Linked DNA regions of Homo sapiens: all the other regions are linked to region 2. The links come from fine-mapping of genetic effects on gene expression. A gene starts in region 2. Each other region holds a variant in brackets. All regions are shown on one strand. Distances are between the middles of the regions.

Evidence for each region. PIP is the estimated chance that this variant, and not a neighbour inherited with it, causes the effect.
Region 1: its variant is the best candidate, but not a certain one, in a credible set for the expression of MTARC2 in whole blood (TOPMed, PIP 0.74).
Region 3: its variant is the best candidate, but not a certain one, in a credible set for the expression of MTARC2 in whole blood (TOPMed, PIP 0.88).
Region 4: its variant is the best candidate, but not a certain one, in a credible set for the expression of MTARC2 in nasal epithelium (TOPMed, PIP 0.89).

Annotation. Positions count from the first base shown.
Region 1 is chr1:220,714,370-220,722,353 of GRCh38, reverse strand. No RefSeq gene overlaps it. Among named protein-coding and RNA genes, the nearest start is that of C1orf115, 28 kb to the right of the region's middle. The variant G/A (reference allele first, on the strand shown) is at 4,280.
Region 2 is chr1:220,744,943-220,752,926 of GRCh38, reverse strand. MTARC2 (mitochondrial amidoxime reducing component 2) reads right to left here and starts at 4,605. Exons shown (of 8, transcript NM_017898.5): 1 at 4,124-4,605. The coding sequence starts at 4,395. LOC124904516 (a long non-coding RNA gene) reads left to right here and starts at 4,112. Exons shown (of 2, transcript XR_007066884.1): 1 at 4,112-5,108; 2 at 6,164-7,984.
Region 3 is chr1:220,651,727-220,659,710 of GRCh38, reverse strand. MARK1 (microtubule affinity regulating kinase 1) reads right to left here. Exons shown (of 18, transcript NM_018650.5): 15 at 7,561-7,725; 16 at 6,359-6,610; 17 at 1,877-1,921. Among named protein-coding and RNA genes, the nearest start is that of C1orf115, 35 kb to the left of the region's middle. The variant AT/T (reference allele first, on the strand shown) is at 2,922.
Region 4 is chr1:220,772,011-220,779,994 of GRCh38, reverse strand. All of the region lies in intron 4 of MTARC2 (mitochondrial amidoxime reducing component 2), which reads right to left. Among named protein-coding and RNA genes, the nearest start is that of MTARC1, 11 kb to the left of the region's middle. RefSeq lists a silencer at 4,482-4,636. The variant A/G (reference allele first, on the strand shown) is at 4,159.

The DNA of each region.
Region 1 (7,984 bases), 31 kb after region 2:
CTTCTTCAGAGTCACTTTGCAGGGGTTGGCGAAGCTGCTCCCATCCACATACAGCTCCCAGTCTACTGATGTTTAAGGATGGTCTCAGAGGTTGGGGCCACTAGAATAAACTGAATCTAATACTTCCACACAGTTATGTTTAACTGGGCTCTCTGATACCAGGAGCAAGGTGGCAGGGTTTAGGGTGTTGTAAACTTCAATGGTTATGCGGGGACTTTCACAGAGCAAGCTTTGGTATCTAGTTAGTCTAGCATTCGTTAACTAATGATGTCCTTTGGTATTGATTAAAGTCACCACAGCATGGGAGGACTTTATGTTTAGGTTTTGCCTAAGAGTTAGCTTATCTGCTTCTTGTGCTAACAGGACCATCGCTGCCAGGGCCCTTAGACATGGGGGCCAGCCTTTGGAAACCCCGTCTAGTTGTTTTGAGAGATAGGCCACTGGCCTTGGCCAGGGCCCCACGGTCTGGGTTAAAACTCCAACTGCCTTTTTTTTTCTTTTTGACACACAGAGTGTAAAAGGTTTTGTCAGGTCAGGTAGCCCCAGGGCTGGGGCCGACCTGAGTTTTTCTTTTAACTCATGAAAAGCTTGTTGCTGTTGGTTGTAATAGATGTAGTTTATCTAATTTATATTTTTATTGACTGTCATCTACCAAAATATTGACTTGAGTCCTGTAGCTATTTGATTTCAAGCTTTAAATTGATCTGGTATTCCTTGCGGGGCTCCAATTGCATCTAAATAGATGTGAGAGTTGAAAGACCCATAAGGGGCTTCTCTCGCTTTATGATGTCTTATTTTTTTTCTTCCTCTGGTTGATGAAATGCCAGGGTTAAAGGGACAGCCAAATGGACTAAAGCACAAGTGCCACTCTAGTTATTTGGCAGAGTGCCCAGTAAAGTTCCACCACAACACCACCATACATCCGCTCGGGGATGAACAAGGGCTGACTGATTGATAAGTTCTTGAAAATTCTTAAGCTCACTGCATCCCTTCAGGTCTCCAAGGAATGCTAAGTTTCCTCCCTGTCATGAGAGACACGAAGTGAACTTAGCGTTGGGAGACAGAAGCTGGATGGCCTTCGGGGGCTGACCTACGGGGTGCCGGACATTGGGATATAGCAGAGAGAGCTTGGCACGACTTATTACTCTAGGCTGTAGAATCCTGGAAAAGAGCTACCATGGAGCCCATGCTTGGTCGACTGGAGGACCACCTTAGTGGAAAGGGGACCATCTGGGACTCTGGCCTGTCATGTGCACAAGCATAATAATTGCTTTTGTTTAACGTGCAGATGGAATATTTGATCCATTCCAACCAGGCATTTGCATCTTGTTGTGCTGTCTTAATTGCCAAAGTTTGTTTTAAGTCTTTAACTTCTATGATCCTCTAGTAAAATGCATGTTTCCTTTAGCACCTATTTTTATTAGTTTTTAGACCAAAGAAAGCTAAACACAATTTTATATTTAATAATGCTTCTTGTATGATTTTTATACCAGATAAGCTAAACTCTACCTTTATATTAGTGTGTTATTAATGTTAAATTTAATTTTAATAAAACCTTGTAGACATATTTATCCAAATTTTCATGTTTGACCATAAGGTAAGATTTTATAGACTCTTTTTAACCTTTTATAATTTTTGTTAAAGACCAGGTTGGTGCTTTAAGAAAAACCTGTTGTGTTTTTACTTTAATGTCCAGTTCACAGAAAAACTGGATGATACCTTTTTAACTTTAGCTAATATGTTTACACACAGAATTTTCTTTACAATTGATGTTTTAAAACTTGCTTAAACTTTCAAAACAATAATTTTTTTAACCTTTTACTGTAGGTAAAAATCCACATTCTTATGCCTCCTTATATTCCTTTTACCAAAGGTATATTTTACTTTTCTTATACACCTTGCACATAAAACTGTTTCTTCAATACTACTCAGGAGGCCTTATTGCTTTTTAAATTATACAACATTTTTTGCATAAAATTTTTTTATAACCTTTTTTCTTTCATGACTTTCACAGACAATTCTTCGACATGTCTCAACTTTCTGACTTATTATAAACATTTCTTTCTTTAAACAACCAGTTAATTTATTTCAGGACAAGAATTTACCATATAACACTCTTTTATGTAAATTCTGCCTCCCCCTTTTTTTCCTTTTTTCTTTTTTTGAAGATAACCATTCTTTTTTTTTTTTTTAAAGCGAACTTTCTTTATGTCTGTGGACTAGATTGTCTACGGCCACAAGATTAGAAGTTACTGTAATACATGTTACACTGTTAACTTTAGCAAACTTTACTTTTGTTGAAAACCTTGTAAGTTTGGGATTTCAGTTATCCTTTGCTATTAATAAGACCTCGTTTAGTCTAAATTAACTTAGAATTAGTATAGATGGCCCTTTTTTTTCCCGTTAGCAAAGCAGCTGCCGCTACAGATTGAAGGCATCTGGGCCATCCACGGGTTACTGGATTAAGGATTTTTGATAGGAAGACCTCAGTGCTTTCGGGATATGCCCTTGTTTACACTGACAACAAAGTGGTATTAGAGTGTTACAGGGTTATGGAGAATACCTTTAATTATCAATTATAGGTTTTAAATTTACCTTGGCTTTTAAAGGAATAGGGTATACTGTTTTTTTCTTAACTACTTGTATATTTCTCTTTCTCTTTTTCTTTCTTTCTTTGACTTTCTCTCTCTCTCTCTCTCTCTTTGACTTTCCTTTTGCCTCTGTCTCTTCCTCTCTTTCTGCCTCTCTCTCTGCCTCTCTCTTTTCTTGACTCCTTCTTTGTCTCTCTGTCTCTTCCTCTCTCTCTTTGCCTCTTTTTCTCTCTGTCTCTTTCCTCTCTTTCTCTCTGCTGGTCTTTCCTTGCCTCTGCCAGCCGCTTATGCTGCTGTTCACTTAACTACTGTTTTGGGAAAGGGGGTCTAAAACCAGCTGTAACTAAGTGTCTCTGTACGGAAACTGGTCTGGTTGCCCTGCCTTGCAGGTTACCTTGTGCCATACCTTTGAAACAAGGGACCTGTCCAGGCTTCCTTCTGATGGCCAACACACCTCTAATGCTGGCCAGTCTATTTCACACAAAGTTCTAAGTTTTCCTGGTGTCATAGTAACACCGTAATCTCCCTTAAATCTTTTCTTGAATTTTTTCGACATAGTTCCTAGCGGGGTGGGCTTATTTGTGCCTGACCCATGCTTCTTCAAGACAAAACACCACACTCACACCACACATACACCACAAAACAAAGAACAGGTAAAAAGGGCACACACACACTTTTGCGGTTTACACCAAACCAAAATCAAAACCAAAATCAGAGTATCCAGAAATCCAGGCCAGGTCAAAACCAGAACCAAAGTATCAAGCAACCTAAGTCAAGTCAAAAACAAAAACCAAAGTGCCGGTACAGGCACACCGTGGGTGATCAGGCCACACTTCCACTCAAATGGAGTGGGCAAGTTCCGAAGACCAGTCCTATCAAGCAATTCAAACCAAGTCAAAACCAATACCAAAGTGCTGATAAAGGCACACCATGGGTGATCAGGCCATGCTTCCACTCAAATGGAGTGGGCAAGTTCCAAAGACTAGTCTTACCAAGTTTCAGATATCCAGACTCCAAGCGCCAGTTCCTTCCCGGTGTTCAGCCACTGCGTTGATCCTCCACAGGGGCGTGCCACACACTGCTCTGGTGAGGTGTCCCACCGGGGCAAATGCCTACCCGGGAGCACTCTCAGGATCCGTGTCGCTCCGGCTGGTTGGAGTCCCCCTCAGGGATGTTCCACAGGGCAGGCTAAAGCTGCCTAAGGAGCTGCCTTGACCGTCCATTAATCACCTCGCTTCCTGGTCAGAGAACCAAGAAATGTAGCAGGACCAGCCATGGAAAAAACCCCTCAGACACCGAGACACTGAAGGGAATGGCTTTAATCAGCTGGGAGTATCGGCAGACTAGCGTCTTAAAATCCGAGCTCGTCAGGTGCTCAACTTCTGTCCCTTTTAAGGGCTCACAACTCTAAGGAGGTCCACGTGAGAGGGTCGTGATCAATTGAGCAAGCCGGGGGCTGCGTGACAGGGGCTGCAAGCACCAGTGGTCAGAGTGAAACAGAACAGAACGGGAGGTTTCACAACGTCCTTCCATACTGTGTCTGGAATCTATAGATAACAACAGTTGCTAGGTCAGGTGTCGATCTTTAACTACCCAGCTTAGGTCAGGCAGGCCCAGGCCTGGTTTCAGATCTGGTTCCTTGGTTTTGGGTCTGGTTCCTAGGCGCCAGGCTACCTGCCTTTAGTTTC[G/A]CTTCTCTTTCCTTTTCTGAGTGTAAAACAATATCAAACAATAGGAGAGGGTCTCTCTCTTCCCTCAGTATGAAACAGTGTTTGGTTTTCTTTGGGCCATATTTGTGTAAATATGTTATTTGTATGTGTTCCAAAATTATGGGCAACTCCTGTAATTCTGATATGACTAAGTGTACATTATCAGTAATAATCATAATTGTCACGTTAAAATTATTATGTGCCACAAAGGTAACAAACTTTCTTGCCAATTGTGTCTTTGACTATGGTGGCCCTAAAACATTTTGTCATCCACAGACAATTGTTCTCTTGCTTTGGTACTGTTTAGACAGTTGTTTTATAATCAGCTATAACTGGTGCCCTTGAATGCAGGTTTCTAATAACTTTGGAGATTGTGACATCAGAACAGTGGAAAAAGGGGCACAGCTTGGTTTTATACATTTTAGGGAGATACGAGGCATCAATCAATATATGTAAAAAGTGTATTGGTTCCATCCGGAAAGACGGGGACAACTCGAAGCAAGGAAGGGGGCTTCCAGGTCACAGGGAGGTGGGAGACAAAGGGTTACATCCTTCTGAATTTCTGATAAGCGTTTCCAAAGGAGGCAATCACATACGCATCTATCTCAGTGAGCAGAGGGATGACTTTGAATAGAATGGGAAGCAAGTTTGCCCTGACCAGTTCCCAGCTTGACTTTTACCTTTAGTTCAGTAATTTGGGGGCCCCAAGATTTTCCTTTCACACTTCCCCCCTATTCTTTTTTAAAATCTTTTAGAGAAAGTATTTTAGAAGAAAATGAGTCTCTGATTTCAGGTTTCATCTGATCTCTCATGGCAAGGATGGTTTATTCCTAGACAGGTAGGTCCCAAAAGTTCATTTTTAGCAGGTTATGAAGTCTCATGTCCTATAAAGAGAAAATAAGGGGAGGAAGGGAGAAAAACAACAGCAAACAAAAGAATGATCCTGGAAAGTGGCTTATGTATGTAAATGGGATGCTGTTATTTTCTTCTGAAGTTTAAGTTGTCTAGCTTCAGTTTGCAGGGCTTTAAGAAACACAGCTTAGTTTTCAGTGATTTCAAATTAGGAAAAATTGGGGAAAAAAAGAAAAGAAAGAAAAAAAATATTGAAAATGTTATTTTGTAGACTTGTAGCCAGGAAAAATTAGAGTTCAGCCCAAACTGTAGAAAATAATAAAAATTGAAAAACATTAGGCAAGACTAGAATCTAACAACAAGTGTACTATAGTTTTTGAAACATATTTTTTCTCTCTCTCCAGTTTCCCATTTTCACTAAAGACAAATCATGGTAGGACCAACCTGCTTTATTTTACCTGTCCAGATTATTTGTATAAAGTACAGCAAGAATAATTATTTTTCACATAGGCTTTTTAAAATTGGCTTTGATGAAACTTTGTTCCATAGAAGAAATATCAAGACATTTTTAAAGCCGAACCCCGCGATGGATTTGTGCCACCACCAAATACCTATGAGTTGGGTGAATTACCTCTCCTCTTGAGGTTCCAAGATAAACCTAGGGCTCCTGGGCCTGTCAGAAGGTGACATTCTTTACTAACGACAGGTCAGAAACCCTGTACAGGGACTCTGTAGACAAAGTATGAGGCCAGTTTTCCCAAGGGCTTTTATTGGCTGCATAAGTCAGGTTTTATTCCTTAAGGAAAGCATGCCATTCCAGTCAAAGCCTTGGTAAAATAACCAGTTTCTCCAATTGTGTCCTCTTACAAATGAGAACAGATTCTTATTGCACTTATGCAAATAACTGTATTGTCGTAAGTTAAGAATACTCACAAATAGTTTCCAAATTCTTCAGAAATCAGGTAGAGAGAAACAAATATGCTCCAAATTTTGTTCATAGGAGTGTACTCAATTGTTAAAAGCTGTCAATAGCTCAAAAGAAAAGTTTCAAGACTCCGAAAAACAAAACAAAGGATCAGCAATGTTTTAAGCAATAAGTCAAAAAGATGAGTACAGTCCATGCAGTTAATTCCTGTTTTGCTTGATATTCACGGACATTTTAGCTCTCCATGAGTCCACCGTGCGCACATGTCATCAGGACTTTGTGTGGTTATATCATGGGCATGCATCCTCAACACTGGCAAAACAAACTTTGTAAATAAACTTTCTAAATTAACTGAGACCCTCTCAGATATTTGGAGTTCACAAATCAAAATTAAAAACTTTTGTACTTCAAAGGACACCATCAAGAAATTGAAAGGACACCCCACAGAGTAGAAGACAATATTGGCACATTATAGATCTTATTATATAAGGGACTTGTATGCAGAATATATAAAGAACTGCTACAACTCAACAATCAGAAAAAGTAACTCAATTTTAAAACAAAGCATTTGAATAGGTAGTACTCCAAGAAGATACATAAATGACCAACATGCATAAGAAAAGACAATCCACATCATTAATCATTAGGGAAACAAAAATTGAACCATGGTGAAATATCACCTCACACCCACTAAGATGGCTATAATAAAAAAGATAACAATAAATGCTGGTGAAGATGTAGATAAACTGGAACCCTCATACATTCCTGATGGTAATGTAAAATGATGTAGCCACTATGGAAAAAAATTTGGCAGTTTTTCCAAAATGTTCTACATGGAGTTGCCAATAACCCAGCAATTCCATTCATAACTTGTGATATTATGATTATATGTTTAGGTTTTCCTCTATGGTTTCTGGCTAATAACTCCACTAGCCCTTGTTACAGTCTTTTACTATAATGTTGAGGTGTTTTAGCCTCAGAAGCAGGCCTCAGGAAATAGAATCTCTCTCTCTGACCTTCTCCTGTCCTCTTTACACCTTCCCAAGGCAAGCCTTTAATCTAACTGTGGGTCAAAAGACTCTCATTCCAGAAGCAGTCCTGCCTCAAACCCTGGGGAAAGGAATGCTATGCAGAGAGGCCACAAAAAGTCTGAATAGACAAGCTTACTGGGTTTAGATCAGGCACTTTTTGTCCAATCACATTTCTACATGGTTGTCAACCGTATCTATGTAATAAAGCCTCAATGACAACCCAAAGGGACATGGTTCAGAGAGCTTCCAGATAGTTGGAACATGGAGATCCTGGAGGGTGGCATGCCAGGAGAGGGCATGGAAGTTCTGCTTTCCCTCCCCCATGCCTCACCCTATGCCTCTCTTCATCTGTATCTTTTGTAATAGCCCTTATAATAAACCTGTAAACACAATTGTTTTTCTCAGTTCTGAGAGCTGCTCCAGCAAACTAATCAAACACAAATTAATCCAGCAAATTAATCCAGGGGGGCATGGGAACCCCAACTTAAAGATGGTTGATCAGAAGTTTTGGAATCCCAGACTTGTGACTGGGTCTAAAGCGGGGGACACAGTCTCAGGGGACTGATCCCTCAAACTGTGAGATCTGACACTATCTCCAAGTAGATAGTACCAGCACTGAATTAGAGGATGACCATTTGGGTGTCATCTACAGAATTCATTGCTTGCTTGCTGGTAGAGAGAAATACCCACATATTTTGAGGTCATAGAAGTCTTCTGTGTTCATTATTACTGTGTTGATGTGAGAACAGAGGGAAAAAAAATGGTTTGAAAAACATGTTAAACATAGTTGTATACCCAAGAGAAATGGGAATACATGTCCACACAAAATATGTACACAAATGTTCATAGCAAAATTATTCATAATAAACAAAAACACAG
Region 2 (7,984 bases):
TTCCTAAGTGTATATATGCATATGTGTATTATTTATTCATTTATATATATTTATACTTAATTAATATCAAGAGAGAGGGAGACAGGGTCTCACTCTATCACCCAGGCTCTGGAGTACAGCGGCGTGATCTTAGCTCATGGCAGCCTTGAACTGCTGGGCTCAAGCGATCCTCCTGCCTCAGTCTCCTGAGTAGCTGGGACTACAGGCACACACCACCACGCCCAACTGATCTTTTTATTTTTTGTAGAGATGGGGTCCCACTGTGGTCTGGACCTCCTGGCTGGTCTGGAACTCCTGGCTCAATTAATCCTCCCTCCTTGGCCTCCCAAAGTGCTGAGATTACAGATGTGAGCCATCCTGCCTGGTCAAAGATGTCTTTAGATCCCACAGTTCTCTGGCTCACTCATCCTGGGGCTGGGTTCTGTAAATCTGAGGATGTCTGCCCAGAGAATGGGGCTACAGTGAAATAGGCAGGCATCCACTGACTTAGATGCCTCACAGGGCTGGGCCCTATTCCCTATTTCCAGCCTTGTCCCTTGGTGCACATTTCTTTGGTTAGCCTCACTAAAGCCTTCACCCTTAACTTCCAACATGCCCCTTCCCCAGACAAGACTCCCTTTGAGATCTGCACACAACCAGAGCCATGTCCAAACAGGAGTGGCAAACCTGTTTGCACATTATTTCTGACATTATTTCTCCATGGGCTGAATCTTCTCATCTCCCATTCATCCCTTATTAATGTCGCCCTTCACCGTGGCTCACAGCCTGGCCTGTGGCTCCAGACTGTTGTATAATAATACAGGTGTTAACTGCTGAGGTTAACAGTGGGAAGTTGTCACTAGAGGTTTCCCACTCATCACTGTCACTGAAAAACTGGCAACTTACAGGGAGTCCAATTTTGGAACAGGACAAATACAGCAATCACAGGTTAAAAGGTTACCATTTGTAACATACCCCAACCATCTCATTTCCCTGTCAACCTGGGCAATATTATTTTTCACCTCTTGTGCACAAAATGATGCCCAGTGAATGAATAACTAGTTCTATTCTGCCAGATCTGAAAGAAGAGATAAGTCTGGAGCATAGATTTCATCATAACCAAGTTACCCCAACCTAGTCTGCAACACTAAAAGCCAGCACCTTGAATTCACAGGTAAAACATGAGTATGTGGTAGAGGGATCAGTGTAGAAGCCTGGAGCCCCGATTCCCCAAAAGAGCTATAGAGCCCCGAACAACCAACAGCAACGGGTAAGTGGAGCCCAAAACAACAGAAAAAAATATCATTTCTCAATTACAAACTGGCCTGGGGAGCAGGAAGGACTGAAAAGTGAGGGAAAGCAGGAACTCTACTACTGAGTGTGGGAGGAGAAAAACAGCAGGAATTGGGCAGGGAATAACACCCTGGACAATAATAAACTTAAGGGATTCCTTTCTCCAACAGTTCATCATTTGTGCAGAAGAAATAAAGGACTGGCTTCAGTAAGGGTTTAGAGAGATAAAACTGATCAACTCACATATGGCTGCTAAGGAGAGCAGAGATTTCCAAGGTCAGGGAGGACAAGCACGCCCTCCCAGCAACTGCACCAGGCACCGAATGCCAGCATTCTGCCAGGTGGACTTTAAACACTCAATGCTTAGGGTGCTCAAGCCAAGTGTTCACAAGTATACTAAGAGCTTTGAACAAAATACCTTTAGAAATTTGAGACCCAGAGCACTTCCAGAGGAAAATCCCAGCTCCTTGGAACAGTTAGTTCCAAAGACACAGGTTCAGAATGGAATTCATTAAATGAGGCCTTTCCCTGAACTCTAGGAACATTTGTAGTAGTGTTATTAAATTGTCAGGTGGAGAAGACAGCGGCTATCAAACAGAGTTCTCTCCAGCAAGCCTGCTTTCAAATTGTTAATTATGCTTTGATAAATAAAATGTAGTTAAAATGGGGCTTTAGAGACCATGAAGTTCAACCTCATTCTTTTGCAAATGAGACAACTTTGTAGAAGTTCGCCCAAAGTCTCCTGATCCTCAGTGCAATCCTTATAGTTTTATATCATGCACTGGTTTCATACAAACAGCATAAGTTCTGTACTCACACAGATCTGAGTTCACATCCCCACAGCACACACTGGTTTTCTGGCCTTGGATGGGATACTCCTTCATTCTGATACTGTTTCCTTATTTGCAAAATGGTGATAATACTATCTAGCCCACAAGATTGTTATGAGGTTTAAATATGCTAATCTATGCGACAGGATTTAGCTCAGTGTCTGCTGCATTTTAACACTGAATAACATTAATTTCATTGCCTTTCCCTCTACCCCAGGCTTCACATCACCCCACCCCATCCTAAGCGTTTATTGTTTAAAACAAGGGAAAGGTAATACAGTTGTATTTATTTTAGGATGCCAGTGGGAGCAAAAAGCACAGGCAAAGGACACGTATTTTCTTTCCATGGTTGCAGTAGTCATGGCAAAGCAGTGACAAAGAGAAGTGGGAAAGAAACCGTTCTTCAGGTGATCAGAGGAAACGCAGATTAGAACTGGAAACTGTCTGTGAAACCAACCCTTCAAGCGAGGAAGGAAGTAGTGCAACCTAGCCTGCAACACTAATTTTCTCTGGACATGCATCGTGAGAATTTGGTTCTCCCAGTTTTTTGGAAGGTGTCCAGTCCCACACAGCCTGAAGTCTTTCCAGTAATAGGAAGGCTTTTCTTATCCTTCATATTTGAATAAGCTCTAAACATCCTCTTCTTCTTCATGGTCTCGGATAAAATCCTTTAATTATAGCATCAAAATCACCAGGGGGAGATTTAAACATTCTACACGAGTTGGCCCCACTCTTGGTGATTCTGCTTCCGTAGTCCTGGGATGGGAATCTCAGGAAGTTATAGTTGAAAAAGCTCTCCAGGATAAGAAATCTGGGGTAAGGGTGGGAGAATGAAAATCCTCCCATGATTCATATGGTCTGTGTACACAACACTTCTCTAAGACTCTCTGAAGTTTTCCAACACCATGGAAGTCCACATTTCTTTAAGAGGGCAGCAGTCTTCAGAAAACAGTGCATCCGCGTGTCCTGGAGTGAACACAGGGATGCAGGTGGCTCTCTGCTAGAGGAATCCTTGAATGATCAACTTGCAAACCTCCCTCCCCTCGGACACAGGCCCACAGCTAAACCATCTCGGCCAGATAAGAAGACATCTTGGCTGGGCACAGTGGCTCACACCTGTAATCCCAGCACTTTAGGAGGCCGAGGCTGGTGGATTCCCTGAGGTCAGGAGTTTGAGACCAGCCTGGTCAACAGAGTGAAACCCCGTTTCTACTAAAAATACAAAAATTAGCCGGGCGTGGTGGCGCACACCTGTAATCTCAGCTACTTGGGAGGCTGAGGCAGGAGAATTGCTTGAACTTGGGAGATGGAGGTTGCAGTGAGCTGAGATAGTGCCACTGCACTCCAGCCTGAGCTACGAAGTGAGATTCTGTCTCAAAAAAAAAAAAAAAAAAAAAGAAGAAGGCATCTTAATCCTAAGTATGAAATGTCTATGTGTCAGGCCCAAAAGTCCCAAAGTTCCAGGCTGTGAACAACTCTGCCTATGGGAGAAGGGGGGACACTATTCCCTTAATGGCAAGTATCACCTCTGCCCCAGAGTCCCCATGCCACTTGCTCATCCTTCATCAAAGTGTATCAGGCCTCCAGGGCACCCCCAGGATTGGAGAAATGTGAGGAACAAGGCCCAGCAAGGCCTAAGCCAATGTCCTTGAACAACACTTGGTTTCTTTCTTGCTGCTTTCTAGTGCCAATAGCTTTATTTTTCTACTTTGGTATACTAGGATAGAATCACAAACTTTAGAGCTAAGGAGACTTGGAGATACAGGTCAGACCCCCTCCTGTTACAGAGGAGGAATCTCTCGTCTAGGGAAGGGCAAGGGATTGCCCCTACCTACTTTACCAAAAATAAACCTGGCATGAACTTGGCCTTCCCAGATAAACGACCAACGGCCCAACAGTCAGCCCAGAAACTCAGGTGGCAAACCTCTATAGTCCTTCCCAGATAGATCGGGCCCCACCTGCCCCCCCGCTCCTCATCCCAGGCAGGCTCCGCGCTGCCCCGCGCCCGCGCTGTGCTGTACCTGTCCCGCAGGTTGCCGCTGCGCAGCCCCATGGCCGTGCACTCAGCCTCGCTCACCGGCACCCCTTTGCAGGATTTCACCGGGTAGATCCAGAGCTTCGCCACGGTGCCCACCTGCTGCAGCCGCCGGCGCCGCCTGGGCCATGCGCGGCGCCAGGCGACAGTCCCCAGGGCCACGGCGGCCAGTCCTAGCGCGGCGACCCCGAGCCACCTGGGCCAGGGCCGGGCTGGGAGGCCGAGGCGGGCCAGCGCGGAGGAGCTGGAAGCGCCCATGGCAGAGCGAGGGCGGGCGCGGACCGGCGCACAGACCCGGCAGCGACCGGAGACCGGGAGGACGAGGAGGCCCTTAAGGATCCGGGCAGGCGAGAGGAGTCAAAGTTGACCCAACTACGGACCCTCTCACACTTTCACCGCCGAGACGGCAGAGCAGTTCCGCGGAGAGCGGGAATGCCTTAATGCGGTGACCAAGCCTGCGCGGTAATGGAGGAAGACAGGCAGACAGCGGCGGGGGTACCCTGGGCGCCGTGGGAGCGACGCCGCCCAAAGCAAGCGAGCTAATGGGGCGGCCTCTGGGGTGGTCAGTGTCTCCTCCCTCTTCCCCGCCCCTACAACACGACAGTTACCCATGCAACATGACCTTCAGCGCCAGCACTCTGCCACCCCCTTCTCTGCTAATACTGCACGCTTAGTCGCTCGACAAGATCACCGCAGAACGTGAAGGCGGGTTGCCCAACGGAGGATTTACAAACATTTGGGAACGACTTTTTCTGGCAGGTCGCTGTGAGAACTGCAGGACTTTCTGCACACAAAGACACAGTCTAAACCTCTGCACTCAAAGACGAGGAACTCTAGCGTGGCTTATAGGAGCATGACTCAAGGTCCCCCACCCTCCGCTGCCGCCTAACCTCGACCCCAGTAAAATGTCTTCCCGAGAAAGCTCAAGGCAGCCAGGAGAATTCCCCGTTTATTCTAGCCAACACCCGATGGTAAAGCCCCTGACCTCCCTTTTTTAGGATATTTTCTTAAAAGGGCTTACAACTGTGAATCCTTTCTCTGTTGCTTTGAGATGTATATGTATCGCCTACACCTCAGAAGTGTCTTTCTCAAGGACCTGAAAGCCATTGCTCTGAAATGCAGTCATGGGGAGGATAGGCCTCTGTCCCCCAGTCTCTGTGGGAGGATAGAATCCCAGCTTCATAACGGCCAGCTCCAGGCACAGCTGCCCGTCATTAATACTGACCGCCCCTTCATGATTTTTCACTTGATCCCCTGCTAGCTTCCCGGCCCTATTCTCTCCTTCACCCTTTAAAACGCCCATTCTGCTATGCACAAATGAGAATGATCAGCTTTTTCTCCTACTGTAAGTAGTTACTGAGTAAAATCTGTTTTCATGGTTTAACTAATGTCTGGCTTTGTTGATCTTTAACACCTCCATTCAAGCAAGCTATTGGGTTAACAGTGGATTTTCTCAGACAAATTAAGGTTTGAAGTCTTTCAAGTTTTTTGTTGTTGTTCTGTTTTTCAAAAGTTTGTCCCTTAAACTGTGGCACAGTTCTAGGAAAGTTTAAGGAGGCCAACCAGTGGGCCACCCCCCAAATCTGGGCTGGCCACCTCCAGAGAAAGGGGCCCGTTCTGGAGTGTGGGAAGAGACTCCGGGAAGGATGGAGAACCAGAGGAGCCAGGTTCCCTTTGGCTGTTCCTTGTGAAAAGTGAAAGACAAAACAGGGCCTGAATCTCTCCCCACCCAGGAAAAAACCTCAGGCCAGCAGAATTAGTCCCTCAATCCCCATACATTTACATCATGCTTGGCAGCTGCGACTTATGGATTTGTTTTTTAAGCATGGTGTGGTGAATGTGATGTGTGTACACTTGTAGCTGACCCCCTTTGCCTCTCCCAACTCCTGAGGAGGGTCAGAGTCCTCCCTGCCCACAAGCCTGCTGTCAGAGTGAGGGGCTTACAAAGCCATCGCCTCGCTATACGTGAGCTCCCAGACAGGGCAAATGTCTTATTGATTAATCATCTCTTTCTTTCACCACATAGATATTGATCATTCACCAGGCTTCGTCCTAGATTGGCACTGGGGATTTAAAGTTTAGAAGAAGCTGCCCTTCCATCCAGTTCACTGACTCCCCAGAAGACTGACACCTCCCCTGCAAGTCTAGAGGATAATGTCAGAGGAGAAGCAAGGTCAAGATGCAGAGGATGCAGAGGCAAAAGAGCAGCTGAATCTCAGGACAGTGCTGTTTTCAGAGGGCGGAGCTTTGGAGCTGAGACTTGAACATGAGGAGGGGCTTGGAGATGGGTAAAGGAGAGGATTCTGGGCAAAAGGAGCAGCACGTGCAATAGCCTGAAAAAATGGAAGGAACAAGAGAGTGTGGCATGTTTGGGCAACCACCAGCAATCCAGCTGTATTAGGATGTACCTGTGCATGCAGCAGGTGGCGGGAGTTGAGGCAGGACAGGTGGGCAGAGGTCAGATCAACAGGCATCTTATCTCTACTTAATGTGGAGACACCTCAGAATTCTGAACAACAGTCTGGCATGATTAGACTTGGGTGCTAGGAAGGCCATTCTGGCTGCTCTGAGAAAGAGTAACACCAAAGATGGTTAGATGAGTTGCAAATGCCCTAGTTCAGGCTGATGTAATTCCAAATCAAGGAAAAATAACAGTGGGGCTGGAGATAGACATGTGGTTAGGAGAGATGGTCAGGGGACAGAATTAACAAGAGATAGTGATGACAGAACACAGAGCCAGAGGGAGAGGAAGAGCCCACGGGGCCTCCTGGCTCTGTGGCATAAAAGTCTGGGGTGGGATGGGGGTACCATTCTCAGAGATTAAGAATTCAAGAGAAGCTGGGCACAGTGGCTCACACCTGTAATCCCAGCACTTTGGGAGGCCGAGGTGGGCGGATCAGGAGGTCAGGATATCGAGACCATCCTGGCTCACATAGTGAAACCCCGTCTCTACTAAAAATACAAAAAATTAGCCAGGCATGGTGGTGGGCATCTGTAGTCCCAGCTACTTGGGAGGCTGAGGCAGGAGAATGGTGTGAACCCAGGAGGCGGAGCTTTCAGTGAGCCGAGATCGCGCCACTGCACTCCAGCCTGGGCGACAGAGAGAGACTCCGTCTCAAAAAAAAAAAAAAGAGAATTCAAGAGAAGAAGATAGTCTGGGAAAAAAGATGATGAGCCTATTGTGAACAGCGAGTGAGAGGTATCTTTGAGACATCAAAGAAGAAATAGTTACCTAGATAGATGGGTAACTTGACCTTTCCATGCTTCCACCTCCTCATGTGCAAAATGATGGGGATAGACATCAAGTGAGGAACTTTGCCATGGTGAGTGCTGCCAAGTCTTTGCTGTCTTCACCAGCCATTATCTATCATAGCCTGCCCTGTTTAAGCTTCACCAATGCTGGGGTTGGGGGTGCCTTCAGGGGAGCAGGGAAATTCCTTATCAGTAATGTGTACATTTGCAGCCCAGCATCTTCATTTGTAGAATTAGTGAGGGGTGATGAGAGGCTGTATTAGTCCATTCTCACACTGCTATAATGAAATACCTGAAGCTGGGTCATTTATCAAGAAAAAATGTTTAATTGGCTCATAGTTCTGCAGTCTGTACAGGAAGAACGGCGGCTTCTGCTTCTGGGAGACCTCAGGGAGCTTTTACTCATGGTGGAAGACAAAGCAGCAGTGGATGTCTTACATGATAGGAGCAGGACCCAGAGAGAGGGGGGAGGTTCCACATGCTTTTAAACAGCCAGATCTCATGAGAACTCACTCTCAGGATGATAGCACCAAGGGGAATGGTATTAAACCATGAGAAACCAGCCCCATGATCCAATCACCTCCCAGCAGGCCTT
Region 3 (7,984 bases), 93 kb after region 2:
CTATTCCACCTTAAGATGACCTTAAGACAATGAAATATTTTTCTGCATGGTCTCACAGACATTACCACTGATAATGTCCATTGTAGAAAGCTCCTGGAAATGTGGATATTAATATAATAACAGCTAACATTTATTGAGTACTTACTAGGTGCAGGAATTGTCCTAAGTGCCTAAAATGTATTAATTACTCATTTACCCCTCAGAACAACCCTATGAGGCAGTTAGAGTGAGGAAATGGAGGCACGCAGAGTTGAAGTAACTTCCCCAAAGCCACACAGTAAGGTAAGTGGTGGAACATAGCTGAAACCCATGCACTCTGGCTGAGAACCTATACTTCTAACCACAGTATCACCTCATCTCCCTGAAATGACAGAACCTTATTATAGCTGGCTTGATCCCACCTATGTTCCTTGCTGTTTTTTTTCATCTGTAAAATAGGCATTTTCACCTAGTTGTTGTGAAAATTAAATGATCAGAAAGTACTTTATAGTTAGTATTCAATAAGTCAGTTCAAAAGCAAAAATAGAACCAAACCCAACAACAACCAAACAAAAGGGAATGTGAAAAGTATTGTGTAAACATTTATAAAATATCAGTTACTAATTCTTATAATGTAATAAAATTATATAGTTACATTAAAAGGACAAAAATGCAACTATTAAGGGCCACTTGCAATGCCACACACTACTAAATGTCTCAGAGGGAAATTTAGTGGAAATATAGGATGAAATGCAAGGAGGGGCTCAAAAGTGAAGACTAAGTGAGGGAGAGGCTAAGAACAAGTCCTCCATGTTTCTATAAAAGGCAGAAGAAAGTGAAGAATATTTGTCTTGCTCCCCTGTGGCTCCCTACTGTGGTGACTCAGGTACCTAACTCTACAAAGAAACATTTCAACTATTATTACTAAATGTAAATATAGCACAGTTTGTTAAAAAGACTACATGGGAATGCTATAGTTTTCCAAAGTTAATTATGTTTTATATTTTAAGTAACTTGAAAAGTAGAAATCAAATTGGAGGTTTGTGTTCAGCTGGTCACAATCGTTCCTGAATGAAGCCAGAGCCTTTCATACTGTGGAATACTTGTTGGTTGTAAAATTTACATTGCATCCCTTAATGCTTGGGTACACTCAAAATAAATTAATGTCTTCATTTCTTAAATTTCCCGTTTGTAAAATATGAACACAAGTACTAACATGTCCATAATGTGGTCCCTAGAACAGCAGCATAAGCATCTCCTGGGGACTTGATAGAAATGCAAATGCACAGGCACCTGCCTCGGCCCCTGAATCAGAAACCCTGGGAGTGGGATCCAGCAACCTTTTTATCAAGCCTTCCCTGTAATTCTGATTGTGCTCAAGTATGAAACCCATTGCCAGAATGAATATACAACTAGCATGAAATGTCAAAAAAAGAAATCCCCAAAAGTATGCCTGGATAGAATTTTTAAATGTGGTCAAACACTGAATTATCACCTAAAATATATTACTAATATCAAATCTTCCTACATGTAATTATCTCCCTGTTCTGTGTTATTTGTGCTATTTGACTCAGACTAATTTTAGTTACATTACTTTAGTGAGAAAAATATCAGTACATTTAATCTATTAATTCTTTAGCTTGACATACTTTATAGAACAGAAAGCCTATTTCTATACCAAGTACACAATTCAAATGCATGTTTGGAAAACAAACTTAAAGTTGACTGACTTGAATGCTAGGTAACATTATGAAAACCCACCCCAATATAAAAATCTAAAATACGCATGCTATCTAGTTATTAGATCTATTCATGATCATTAAGTGCTGTAAGTATTTCAAAAGTACGTTTTCATACACAGGGACCTAGCAGCGAAGTATTAATAGTGGCTCCTCACCTTGAGGTGTCGGTTCTGCCACTGGCTTCGCCTTCACTTGGATCCCTCAAAACAAAGTGAAGGTTGAGATTTAATGATAAAAGTAAAAAATATATCAAGAAAACCTATATCTAAAATTATTTTAAAATTAGCTTGTTGAGCAAACTTCTACCATGACAGTTTTCTATTACTAGTCAGTCTGAGACTATTTCTCATATTTTTCACCATAACCGCATGTAATTTATCATTTATTGAGCGTCTACTCATTTTTGTCAAGAGGCAATATGAGGTGAAAGTTTGAAATTTTTTTTTCATAATCTTCCAATTCCCAGCCATGATTCATTTGAAGTCATAATTTATCTTTTGGTTTAGTTTAATCTAAAGTTAAAACTATTTAATAATTATCAATAGCAAGATTCAACTTCAAATTTGTAATTATGTATAATTCTAGTAGTCGCTCAATTTAGAAAATATATACATTAACCTTGTAGTTAGCAAATAAACACCAATTTCCAAATAAGCAATTTCTTTTAGAAGTTATGCTAACAATTCATGCACATGATAAAATATCACAGCAAATTAACAGCCTATCCATGTAGGCAAGTCTAAAAACACGGATTCAATCTTAAATAAAAACACTGACCTTACCTGGATATCCACCTGCGAAATAAAACCAGGAAAACACTACTAATTGTTCTGTGTTGCATGTAATTAATATTTTTGAAGTCTACCAAAATTTTAATGCTTTGTTATTTTTAAAGGTAATTAAATATCTTGTGATAAAGGGTAAAATACTATTAAATAGTGGGAAAAATCACCAACTTGAATCCTTAAGTTAATACTGTCTTAATGTTTTAGCCATTCCAGAAACATTTCTATTATTTATGTAAAACGAATGCAATAAGAATAAAATCAGTGGTACTCTCCCATCCCCCAAATTCATAAAACACACCCACATACCAAGCCCTAAAATTTTAAATTGTTCTTAAGAATATGAACGCCTTATGCCTCTCAGGGTCTTTAACTAATACATGCCTTTCTTAACAAACATATTATGAAAAAAAAA[AT/T]TTTTCTATCTGAATTTAAAAGAATACTAAAATGTATTCTCACATTCAAATGTAATTTCTTAAATTTCTATTTTTAATAACTGGCATTTTCATTGGGAAGTATAATAAAAATTCAATGCCATCTATACAAATCCATTTTTATTATAGCACATTGAAATAAATAAAACATTTTTGAGCAGGCTGAAAGTGAAATGTACATTTTCAGTTACATGTAGATGAACTGATATACACAGATGGGCAGTATACCAACTTGGCAAGCAAGACAGTAATGCTGTTGACTCCCACTGCTAAGACAAAATTCCTTTAGGAAGGGACAAAAATCTCACTGGACTTTTCTGTCCTATTTATATTATGCTTTATTATTCACTATTAGCAAACACCTATACCACAGCTGCCAAACTTAAAACATTAGGAGTGAAATGTCCCTTAGACCCTATCTCCTCTGCTGTAATTGACTGAAATAGCAATTGACCCATACCCTGTTCCTGCCTACCTGGATGCCAGTAGGAACATTGGAAAAATTTCTGCTACTTGGCAATTGTTTCAAAGAGCCCAGGAAGTCTGCTTTAAGTAGCCATGGTAGGAGGCAGATGGAGCTACAGAAGGTGCAGCTGGCTCTAACAGCATATGCAGCACAGCATGCTCTCCAACACTTAACACTTAAAAAACAATTACCTACAGATAGCAATATATACTCAACTGAACAAACTGGGTTGTTCCCTATATAAGAATGAGCTATGGTTAGAAAATCATAAGGTTTGGTGTAGAAGTGAGCCATGCAGGTATTCAGGGCAGAGAATTCCAGGCAGAAGGAATAGCAGGTACACAATGCCAAAGCAGTGCTTAATGTACTTGAGGACAGTCTGGTCCCTGTGTGGCTGGTGTGGAAGCAGCAAGGGGAAGAGTGGGAGAAGAGGTCAGAGCAGAAATGGATGGCCAGGTTACACAAGGCCCCACAGGCCACAGTGAGGGCACAGAATTGTATTCTGAGCAAGGTGAAAGCTAATCAGGGGCTTTAAATTTAAGAGTGACATGATCAGACTTGACATGACACTGCTGAAACAGAAGAGGAGGACAAGGACAGAAACTAGGAGACCTATGAGGAAGTGAAAGATGAATAGTGGTTCAGAGTATGAAGGCAGTGGCGGGAGTGATACAAGCAGTTAAATCCTGGAAATGCTGTGAAGGTAAAGCCAACACAAATTGCCAATGGATCTGAGGTGGTATGAGGAAAAGAAGTGTCAAGGATAACTCCAAGGCTTATGGTCTGAGCAACTGTAAGGACAAGGCTGCCAATTTCTAACACGGTGAAGAATGAGGGAGGGACAGGTTTGGGAAGAGGAACGAGAGTTTACTTTTGAACATGTTCTGTTTCAGAGTCTATAACGTATCTAAGTGGAGAGGCTGAGCAGCAGTTGGATATGAGTCTGCAGTTCAGCAGAAAGATGTGCGCTAGAGATACAGTTAGGAGTTGTTCATACAGGACGGAATCTAATGTCATGAGCCTGACTGAGATCACCAAGAGTGTAAGGAAAACCAGAGAAAAAAATGTGTCCAAAGACTGAGCTCTGGGGCATTCTAATATTTAGAGGTTGGGGGAAAGGCAAGGGAATCTGAAAAAAGCCAGCAAAGGAGCCTGAGAAGTGATAGCTAGTCTGTGAGGTAGGAGAAAACCAGAGCCAAGCAAGGGAAACGCTTTAAATGTGTGGAATGTTTCAAGATAGTAAGTTGCTCACAGGAAGGCAGGAGACCCATCAGTCTCACTCACTGCCGTAGCAATAGCTCCTACAAAAGGGCCTTGCGTGTAGTAGGTCTCCACATATGTGTTCAAAGACTATATGGCAATCTTTATCAGAACCTCCCAACAGACCAGCTCTAAGGCACTTTCTTGCTTTGGCATTCTATCTCACGACTTCCTTTCCAAAGTACTCTGTTTCCCCTAGAGTCTAAATTTTTGTTGCAGTTAAGAGAAATATTTTGCACAATGCTTAATGCACAATTAGTAATCAAGCACTAAACTATAAACCTATTTTTCTTCACTTTAAAATTAATTCTGGCTTAACCATGAGAAAGTACTGGCTTTTTGAAATGGCCTTAAATAGACAAATTCCAAAAGCAGAAACTACTGATAATCTGACTAGTACCCTGCAGATGGCCGGCTAACACTATGATCTAACTTCCATGCTGACTCTGTTGGTGAACTTTTAGTTCTTTCTCTAGCAAGTTTCATGCTGCATAGTAATTGCCCCAATGGTACAAAGTCACTGACTGATATGGTTAGAAATTTATGTTACATTTGAGGCTTTAAAGTTTTTAATTCAGCTATGTGATACTGGGCAAACTGATGTATGAACCAAGCCTATAAATAGCTCCATGACAAGGCAAGTAAGACTGAAGCTGCTTCTTCTCTTTTCCACATCCACTCTTTGAAATCCTAGAAACACTAATAACATTGGAAACTAAGTATTTAATTAGTATTTCTTAAAGCAAGTATAATTATTTCTTACCCATCATTGAAGGCTCAGCTGAAATGATTATATGATAGGGTGCCTTCACTGTCTCCCTAGATAGAAACAATTGTGTCTTCCTCTGGAATCCAGCATGTTGCCCACACTTTTTAGCACATGTTCTGCTTTATATCATGGCTAGTTGTTTGTCTGCTTCTTACAAGACTATAAGAATCTGGAGGGCACAGATGCCATCTTACCTATCTTTAGATTCTGTTCTGCACCTAACACAGTGCTTTGTCTGTCGCAGGGCTTAAGTAGGCATTTAGTGGGACCAGGAATAGATGAAATCCACATCAGCCTGCATTGTAGTAGCAACTTGTATCATCAATGTGCACTGTACACGTATGCATAGTAAGCATAGTAAGTATGCTTACTTTTTAGAAAGTATAATTGTATTGTTTAAGTAGATTAGACCTTTACTATACATGTATTCATTTTGTGTTTACTATGTTTTGATGATAAGGTTTTATGATGTAAAATTGCATAAGTGATCTGTGACTCTGGTGTGTAGGCTTTTTATGCAAGAAGAAAAAAATGTAAATTATATATTATTAGTAAGCAATTTAAAAGTATTGTCAAGATAAATTTGAAGGAAACATGTAAACTCATTTCTTTTCCTCAATCAAGGCTTTTAAATATAAAATAATCTTTTGTTAAAACACACATTTTTGAAGTTAAGTCTTTGTTCTTTCCATTTTATTTTACAGATTTTTAAAATCTCATTTTGTCCATTTTTTCCTTTCTCTCTCTTAAGGAAAAATACTTTATGTCTTCCTAGATTTTTTTCTTCCAACTCTGTAAAAGAGCAGCTCTAATGAAATGTTATGAAACCATTTTAGAAAATTATTATAAAGATTTTTTTAAAAAGTCTAGTTTCCTTTATAATTTCTAGAGGAATCAAAACACGACAGTACATTGGTACTGACCTGCGAACAAATTTGGATGTGATTTTGCTTATTATACCAGTTGACGTTCCCCTTCTGGCATGTGCAAATGCACCCGTTTCATGGGATGGTGAAGCAGGTGGCCCATTATAAGCAACGCTGCGTCGCTCCCGGAGCTGTTCACCATGGAAAGTGCTTCGGCTTGAGCTCCCTCGGGGAAAACGGGTCCGGTCTGGAGTCGCAGTACTAATACTGTGAGCAGATGGGGAAGCAGCAGGCACTCTCTGGGTTGTACTGCTGGGACAAATTAAGATATATCATTCAGAATAATGACAAGAAAACCTTTCACTCAAGCTAAAAACTTGAAACAAATAGCTATGGCTACTTCTTTTGGCCCTACTTTATTTGTTCACATTAGAGATGTGAGACATGGGTTTGGAGTAAAATTTCAGTTTGAAATTAGGTACCTTTTGTTTGGTCACTAAAAATCAAGAAATGACTGAAACAGGGACACAAAGATAAATACTTTTCAGTATCAGGAATGCCAAACCAGGAGTACTGCAAATATTTTTTTAATATTCTCCTGAAACCACTTAGCAATGTTGAACACAAATTTTATTGTTTATTAAAAAGGCTTTGAATAAAATAATTTCCTATTTCTAATTTAGGCCTCAGTGATGCTACAATACCACATGGCACCACCAATATGCCTAACAAATCTAACAGAGGGTTAAAATGTTCAGATGTACTGAATTTGGGAAATCTTAAAATAGAAAAATACTAGAAAAACAATTATACAATTTTATATCTGAACAGGCTCTTTGAGTTCATCAGTTTCATTGACAGGAAAACTGAAGCCTGGTTTTATTAAGAACAAGGAATTGAGCCTGATCATTATCTGCGGGTCTCAACTCACAGTCTAGTGTTTGTTCGTATGGTTTAAATAATAAAAAAATCAATTTACCTAAATGACAAATTAAACAGCAATTTTTAACTTTATAGACGGATGTAAAATCAAATCCTTAAAAAAATTCCTCTAGAAAATGATTTAAGTTATATGCAACATTTCCAATAACAGCCAAAGTACATAGAAAGTTTATGTTACAATTCAATTTTTCCTCCATAACAAACACTGAATCTTATTAGAAAGGTCTTAATGTGATGGTGACTATCATGTATTTTCACATGGTGCTATATTTTTAGAAACTCTTAATGAACAAAATGAGATGTAACCAACACATTACCCAGGCCGGTAAGCTTCAGAGCCGTCTTTAATGGTTGGCAGTGTGACTTTAATAGGATGACCAGAAGTGGACATGGACTTCTGGTGGCGGGGTCGTGCTGAGGGGACAGCAGAGGCCACAGAAGAGCCTGCAGAAGATATGCTACTCACAGACATCTCCGTAAGGCTTTCACCATAAAGCAGTTGAGAAGACCATGGAAAAAAAGAGGAAAATTTGTGGTTTACTAAAATTTAAGAACTATATTTTAAAAAATCTAAACTGACTAACACCTTTCATGACTGAAACATTTGAAAGAAACTAACATTAGTGGCATTATTAATGACTAACAAAACAATTAATATTCTTATGAAAAGTATACAGGGTGAATTTATCACTATCATCTATGAAAAAAATCTCACACACACTATGTATGTAAATGTGAGAA
Region 4 (7,984 bases), 27 kb before region 2:
TTTTAAATGGTGGCTTCATTAGCCTTTGAGTCTGTTTATTCTTTGGCTCATATTAAGTATGAAACTATTATAGCAGAAGAAAGCAGCACAAGGTGACACCAAGAAATATCTCCCAGAGGACTCAAAGGGAGGCAGAATGCTGGCAAGTTCAGGTCCACCTCTTGACTCCCAGTCTCAAAACCCTGATTCCATCATCGCAGGGATGACAGATCTTCTATAGAGTGCAGTTTGCCATGAGAGTCATAAATTAACAGGAAAGTCAATGTGTAGATATACAATGAGAAATGTGTAACTTGCAAGACAAACCCACACTTCCCTTGTAGCTAAGCTGCAGTGGAACCCAAGTTACAATCTGAAGGTTCTTTGAAGAGTGGGGACATCACCCAAGAGAAGGCAGTCATGATTCACACATTCATTGCTGCCACCTTCACAGACAGGCAGCCTGCTAATGGGGTCCTGATCCCACTGCCACTGACTGTGCCTTGCCTTCCCACCCTTGAACGTGGGAACCACTAACACTTGCCTCAGGGATTAACTCAATCCTCACAACTTTGAGGGAGGCGCTATCATGAGCCCCATTTTACCCAAAGAAATGGAGGACTAGAGAGATACAAAATTGTCTCAAGGTCACACTGGAGGATGTAAAGCAGCTGGGTTTGAAATCTTACTGATTCTGAAGGTAGGACTTTGAACTACCCAGCTTTTAACCATATATATGTTTATATGTGCACACACACATATACAGAAACATATATGAGGAATATAGAGATTGTATTATATATATAATATGATTTGTTTTTATACACACACACATACATATACATATATAAGGTGGTTATATGGATTATATTGTAGGGAGGCAAAAATCACCTCTACCCTCTTAGGGTTTTTTGGCTGGGCCTAGTAATTAAATTGACGTAAGATAGATCAACAGGAGAAATGCATACATATTTATTTAATATAACTTTTACGTGGCACTGGAACCTTCATGACAAAATGAAGATGCAATTAGAGTTGAACACTTACATTATATGCAGAATTGGGCAAAGATGTGGCAGGACTAGGGTACTTAACTAGGTAGAGAGGGACAGGGAAGATGAGGATTGGCTTGACAGGGTTTGTACAGATTTCCCTCAGCCTCAACTTTTTGTCCTTGATGATAAGCATGACACTTTCCTTCTGGTATTGGGAGACATCTTTTACACAGGAATTTCATCTCCTGCTTTTAAGAAACGGAAGGGCAGAGTGATCTTCTTGCACCTCTGTTTTTCAAGTGTTCTTAACTCAAAAAAGTCAACATGCTGGAGCGGCATATTTTGGGTTCATGTGATCTTAACTCCTTCAATATTACATATACACGTATAACATGATATGGTTTGGATCTGTGTCCCCACCAAATCTCATATCGGATTGTCATCCCTACTGTTGGAGGTGGGACCTGGCGGGACAGAATTCAATCATGGGGGTGGATCTTTCATGAATGGTTTAGCACCACCACCTTGGTGCTGTTCTCATGATAGTGGGTGAGTTCTTGCGAGATCCGGTTGCTTAAAAGTGTCTGGCACTTCCCCTTCGCTCTCTTGCTTCCGCTTCTGCCATGTAGGAAGCTGGACCCCCTTTGCCTTCCACCATGATTGGAAGCTTCGGGAGGCCTCCCCAGAAGCAGAAGCCGCTATGCATCCTGTACAGACTGCAGAACCATGAACCGCTTTTCTTTCTTTCTTTCTTTTTTTTTTTTTTTTTTTTTGAGACAGAGTCTCACTCTGTTGCCCAAGCTAGAATGCAGTGGCGCAATCTCGGCTCACTGCAGCCGCAATCTCCGCCTCCCAGATTCAAGCAATTCTCATGCCTCAGCCTCCTGAGTAGCTGAGATGACAGGCAGTGCCACCATGCCCGGTTAATTTTTGTATTTTTAGTACTGATGGGGTTTCGCCATGTTGGCCAGGCTGGTCTTGAACTCCTAACCTCAGGTGATCCGCTCAACTCAGCCTCCCAAACTGCTGGGATTTCAGGGTGTAAGCCACCGCACCCAGCCTAAACCTCTTTTCTTTATAAATTATCCAGTCTCAGGTATTTCTTTATTGCAATGTGAGAACAGACCAATACATATATCCAGACAGATTACAACTTTTTGACTTTATGATGCATTTATTGGGAGGTAACCCCATGGTAAGTCAAGAAGCATCTGCACACGGGAGGGGATGTATGTAGAGCTATATAAAGGTTGCAGGCCCCTCCGTGAATAGGGAGGCCATCTGTATTCTTTATCTTTAAGGCACCATGCCTGTCTCTGCTGCTACCTACTGATTTAAGGTTTGAATTTCACAGGGCAATCCTCTGTCCAGGTCTCAAGGTAGGAGGCATTGGGGTACGGGGCCTCACTACTGCCTCCATAAATCAACAACATAGACTGTGAGTCTAAGGAATTCGGAGAAACAATCGTCTTGACTTAGGAACTAAAGAAACCTATTCCTACTCCCCTGGCTGCTTCGCTTGGGCAGGAGGCATAAGAGGTCTGAAGTCTCTGCAGGAGGCAGAGCAGGGCAGGGGGTAGGGACTAGCCCCATAACTTTTCTCCCTCTGCCGCTGATGACCAGGCCATGTCTGGTCCTCCTTCAGTGGCAAGCCAGCCCCTCCAACCCCCTCCCGGGCCTATAGTGGTGCTTCAGCAAATGCAAATGATTCTCCAGTACCTAACCGGGTCTTCAAAACTCAGAAATCTCCTACAGGGCATGACCACAGCTAGAGACTAAAGTAAGGAGGTCTCCATGGATGCACTGGGTTCTAAACCATCCTTTAGGAAACTGCTGCTTTGTGGAAATAAACGCCACGGTCCAACCAACCAGTTGAGGATAACTGCGTGTACACAACATGTGTAAGGAATGGAATCGCCATGTCCTACTCAGGACTTATTACAAGCACTCCTAGCCAGTAACTTATTGCGAAGAACTACAAGACAACCACAGCGGGTGGCTAACCTCCTGGTAGATCGTGACCTCCGATGGGGTGTGACCCAGGAAGGCAGCTACTGTACTGGGAAGTAAGGATCAATGGGTACCCTGGCCTGAGATGCAGCCAGGAAGGCTGGGCACCTACCACACGAGGGCGCTGCGGACCCAGGAATGGAAGCCGACCCAGCCGCGCTGTGCTGAATGGACCCTGGCTCTCCAAGTATCTTCCGTTCAATTTTTTGTGTGTGAGAGCTAAAGAATTTAAGATTTCCAAGACACATAACGGTGGCAATTCTGCGTCGTTATTATGACAGAAGGCAGGGAGTCTGACAAATTCAGTTAGTCATCTATTCTCACTGTTAGACAACCGCAAGGCCGCGTTTAAAAGAGCAAATTGTCTGGATTCGTAAGAATCGTCCGCAACACCCCCAAATGCCGGCTCTAGTTACTTCCTAAAATATTAATCACCACCTATAATCATATATATTCTCAACCTAATCTGATCATTGTCAGCATTTTGGTGTAAAGCATTATTTGCAGTAAAAAAAATACTATGCTAATTAAGTTTAAATGCAATTATTAATTCAGTTATTTAAAATAATAAATTATATACTATTAAAATAAATTTAATAATGCATGAAATTAAAATTTCCATTACATTCTACTAGACATACAAAGAGTGAAATACGCTATTCAGCAAGTTCCAGTGTCTTCTCAAAGGAAGACATACACGCGACCAACAAGCACATGAAAAAATCCTCAATATCACTGATCACTAGGGAAATGCAAATCGAAACCACAATGAACTACCATCTCACACCAATCAGAATGGCTATCACTAAAAAGTCAAAAAATAACAGGTGGCGAGGCTGTGGAGAAAAGGGAATGTTTATATACTGTTGGTAGGAATGTAAATTGGTTCAACCACCATGGAAAGCGATCTGTAGATTTCTCAAAGAACTTAAAATAGAACCATCATTCAACCTAGCAATCCCATTACTGGGTATATACCCAAAGGAATATAAATCATTCTACCACAAAGACACATGCACGCGTATATTCATCACAGCACTGTTCACAACAGCAAAGACATGGAATCAACCTAGATGCCTATCAACAGTGGACTGGATAAAGAAAATGTGGTATACATACACCATGGAATACTATGCAGCCATAAAAAAACACAGATTATGTCCTTTGCAGCAAC[A/G]TAGATAGAGCTGGAGGCCATTATTCTGAAAGAATTACTGCAGGAACAGAAAACCAAATACAACATGTTCTAATGTATAAGTAGAGGCTAAATGTTGAATACACATGGATACAAAGAAAGGAACAACAGACACGGGAGCCTACTTGAGGGTGGAGAGTAGGAAGAGGGTGAGAATTGAAACACTATAGGGTACTATGCTTATTACCTGCCTGACAAAATAATCTGTACACCAAACCCTCAGCAACACACAATTTACCTATATAAAAAACCTGCACCTGTACCCCTGCACCTAAAATAAAAGTTGGAAAGATAAAAATAAATAAGTAAATAGGTAGAGAAAAAGATTCCGGGGTCTTCCCTAAACACAAAATCAGCTCGAGACGCTTAGTGCGCCCCCTGCTGGTAATCAACCTTTCCGCAGTCTGCCGAAATCCAGGCCCCAATGACATTTACTTAGAGTGATGGGATAAAACTATGGAGTTTTCAAGATGAAAGAAGCAAGGTAAGGAAGAGGAAAAGGCAAGGAGAAAGGGGAGTACTATACATAAGGGTTCAGCTCTGAGGAAATAATCCTGAGGATTTGCTATGAATGAACGTGTGCACATCTTGTAAATACTAAATTAGGACTAGAGGGTTTTCCATCACAAGCAGCACCCAGAGAGAGAAGTGAAATAAGGGTGGGGCGGGTGGGTGTTGTGGAACACACAACTGAGGGTGTTTGTCTGTTTGAAACCTTCATAGATCCATGTAGGCATTTGCCAAGCAAAAAAATTGGATGTATGAAACTTAAAAGTTGACTACTAATGGAGAGTCTCCCTCCCTTTTTTCCTGTCTCTCTCTCCGTAGATGCATACGAATGTGTGTACACACACACACACACACGCACACACACGGGTCTATATAGACACACAATTGCATGGCTATATCCACACAGACAGAGGAAGTAGATACAGATGTGAAGAATATATATCTCTACCTATATAGTCCATCTCTCTATGTATAGCCAGAGAGAGTGCACAGTCAGGTGAGAATGGAGGCCAAGGTGAGTTCTTAAATACCAGCTGACCACAGAAGTATAAGACCGCTGAGAGTGAGGTGGAAAGAGCCTGCATGGCCTGCCGTGGCAATGGGCTATGAAAGACATCACTTGTAAGACCACAGATCAGAGCAGCAGTTCAAATTAGATCCAGGCCACCAAGCCTTTGGGATTCTGTTCCTTGAGCCTCCTGCCACCACCATCCCAGCCCCTTCATCTGCTTAATCTCTGTCGCAGGACTGGCGCCTCACTTTCACTGCTCCTGGTTTTCTACTCATGTGTTTATAATATTGTGTTGTACGCACAATTGTTAGAAACAACTTTAAACTATTTTGTGATAAGTCGAGGGAATATGTAAATAAGACTATTCTGTTTCTAAATCCATAGCAATTTTTCTGACTTGATATCAATGACTCTACATGATTATAGAAAGCTCCAAGTCACCTCCTGGAGACTGGCTAAATATACATGGGACATATGTGCAATAATCATTATTCGGGTATTAAAAAAGGGTGCTCCCAGTCTAGACAACATGATATAACCTCGTGTCTCCCAAAATTACAAAAATTAGCCAGGTGTGGTGGTGTGTGCCTGTGGTCCTAACTACTCAGGAGACTTGAGGCAGGAGGATGGCTTCAGCCCGGGAGGCAGAGGTTGCAGTGAGCCGAGATCACGTCACCGCACTCCAGCATGGGCGACAGGGTGAGACCCTGTCTGAAAAAAAAAAAACGAGGATGTGAGTCTATATCTATTAACACTGAACACTTTTCAAGGTGTTGCTGAGTGAAAAAAACACAAGGCACATTTTATATGTGTGTGTGTGTGTGTGTGTGTGTTTATATATAATAGAGGATGATTCCATGTACATAAAAAATCTGTATACATAGCTATGTGTATACATTTATAGCAATAAATCTGGAAGGCTCCTCACCAAGATTTAAACATTATTTGTTTTTCATAATAAATCTTAATTTTTTTCTTTTGCCTTTTTTGCTTTATTTTTTATAAGAGGTATAATCCCAACAGCACATCTTAAAAATAATTTTTGTCTAGATAGTTCATTAGATTCTCTGTGACATCAAATACATGATGTCTTTTCCAACACCATTTCTGCAATTCTCTGACACCAATTGGGTGTCCAACAATTCAACTCAATTCTGACACTCACTACTAGAAGCAAGTAGAGATCCCTTAGGTAAGGGCTCAGTCCTACAAGACTGCCCCCCATCCCAGATGCCAGCCAAGTCCAGGCCACCCATGCTTCTCACCAACTGGCTATAAATTGAGGGTACCCACAATCCCCTCCTAAGGTTTGACAAGTTTCTAGAATGACTCCCAGAACTCAAAAAAGGCTTTACTGTTGTTCCTGACTTATTATAAAGGACGCAAGTCAGGAACAGCCCAATGGAAATGCTGTCTAGGGCAAGGGATGGGGATGGAGGCTCTCCGAGTTTTCATGCCCTCTCCGGGTGCACCACCCTCCCAGAACTTCAATGTGTTCTCCAACTCAGAAGCTCTCCAAACCCCATCTTTCAGGGGTTTTTTGGAGGTTTCATTTCATGTAAATGATTGATAAAATCATTGGCCATTGGTGACTGAACTCAACCTCCAGCCCCTCTCCCTTCCCCTGAGATCAGGGCTGGGTGGGGCTGAAAGTCCCAACCCTCTAATCATGGCTTAGTCTTTCTAAGAACCAGCTCACATACCAAAGCTGTCTAGGGACACCCCTCTTTCCCCAAGAGTCATCTCACTAGCATAAAGTCAGGTATGATTGAAAGGGGCTTGCTATGAATGACAAAAGAAACTCCTCTTACCCCGTCACTCGGGAAATTCCAAGGGCTTAGGAGCTTGTGCCAGGAACCAGAGACGAAGCCCAAATATATATTTCCCATTATACCAGAGTTAAATGATCTCAAACCGAAAGTTATTTTTTCTATTCTTAAGACATACAAGCTAATGAATATTCCTTAATGTCATATTTCAAAATCTAATCACTCTTCTTATAAAGAAAGACCATGCCATGGTTCCCGCAATTGGATCCAGTTCATATCAAGCAAGTCTTCAGCATCCACTGCCCCCAAACACACACACACACACACAAACACACACACACACACCCTGCCCAGAGTGCCTCTTTCTCACTGGGATCCTTCAAGTCTGATGTCCTGACTTCAGCTGCAGCCCTCTACCTACTGTAGCCTTGATCCCACTTGGCCCTGAGACCCTTGCAGGCAGACACAGTGAGGTCATCTCTGTAATCTTAGCATCTATCTCAGAGACTAGCACTAGGAAACCCTCAAACATTTGCTGCAAATATGAATATTTTAGAATTTGGGGACTAAGACAGGATGCCATACACTAAGAATTACCAACTTACATAGGACATTACTTTTCACTTACTAAATTAGTAAAAATTATAGCAATGCCAGGAAGAGCACAATGAAAAGGGCACGCTTATGCTCACCTTGAGGGAATATAAATTGGTATAAGGTTTCTGGAAAGCAATTTGGCAATATATACAGAGAGCCTTTAAAATGCTGCATTAGCATTTCCTAAGAATACTTTTGGAAATGTAGATACCCACCATTTTACAAAGCTGCTCATTATTTATGTGAGAGAAAATGGAAAACAACCTAAATGCTCAATCATAAGGGAATGGCTAAACAAGTTATTGCAGAGTCACAGGATGGACTAACATGGAACCACTGGAACCACGCAAATGAAGGATTTGCAAAGACAGAGCTGGTTGCCATGTGCCATTAAATGAAAATGGTGGAATTTAATACTATT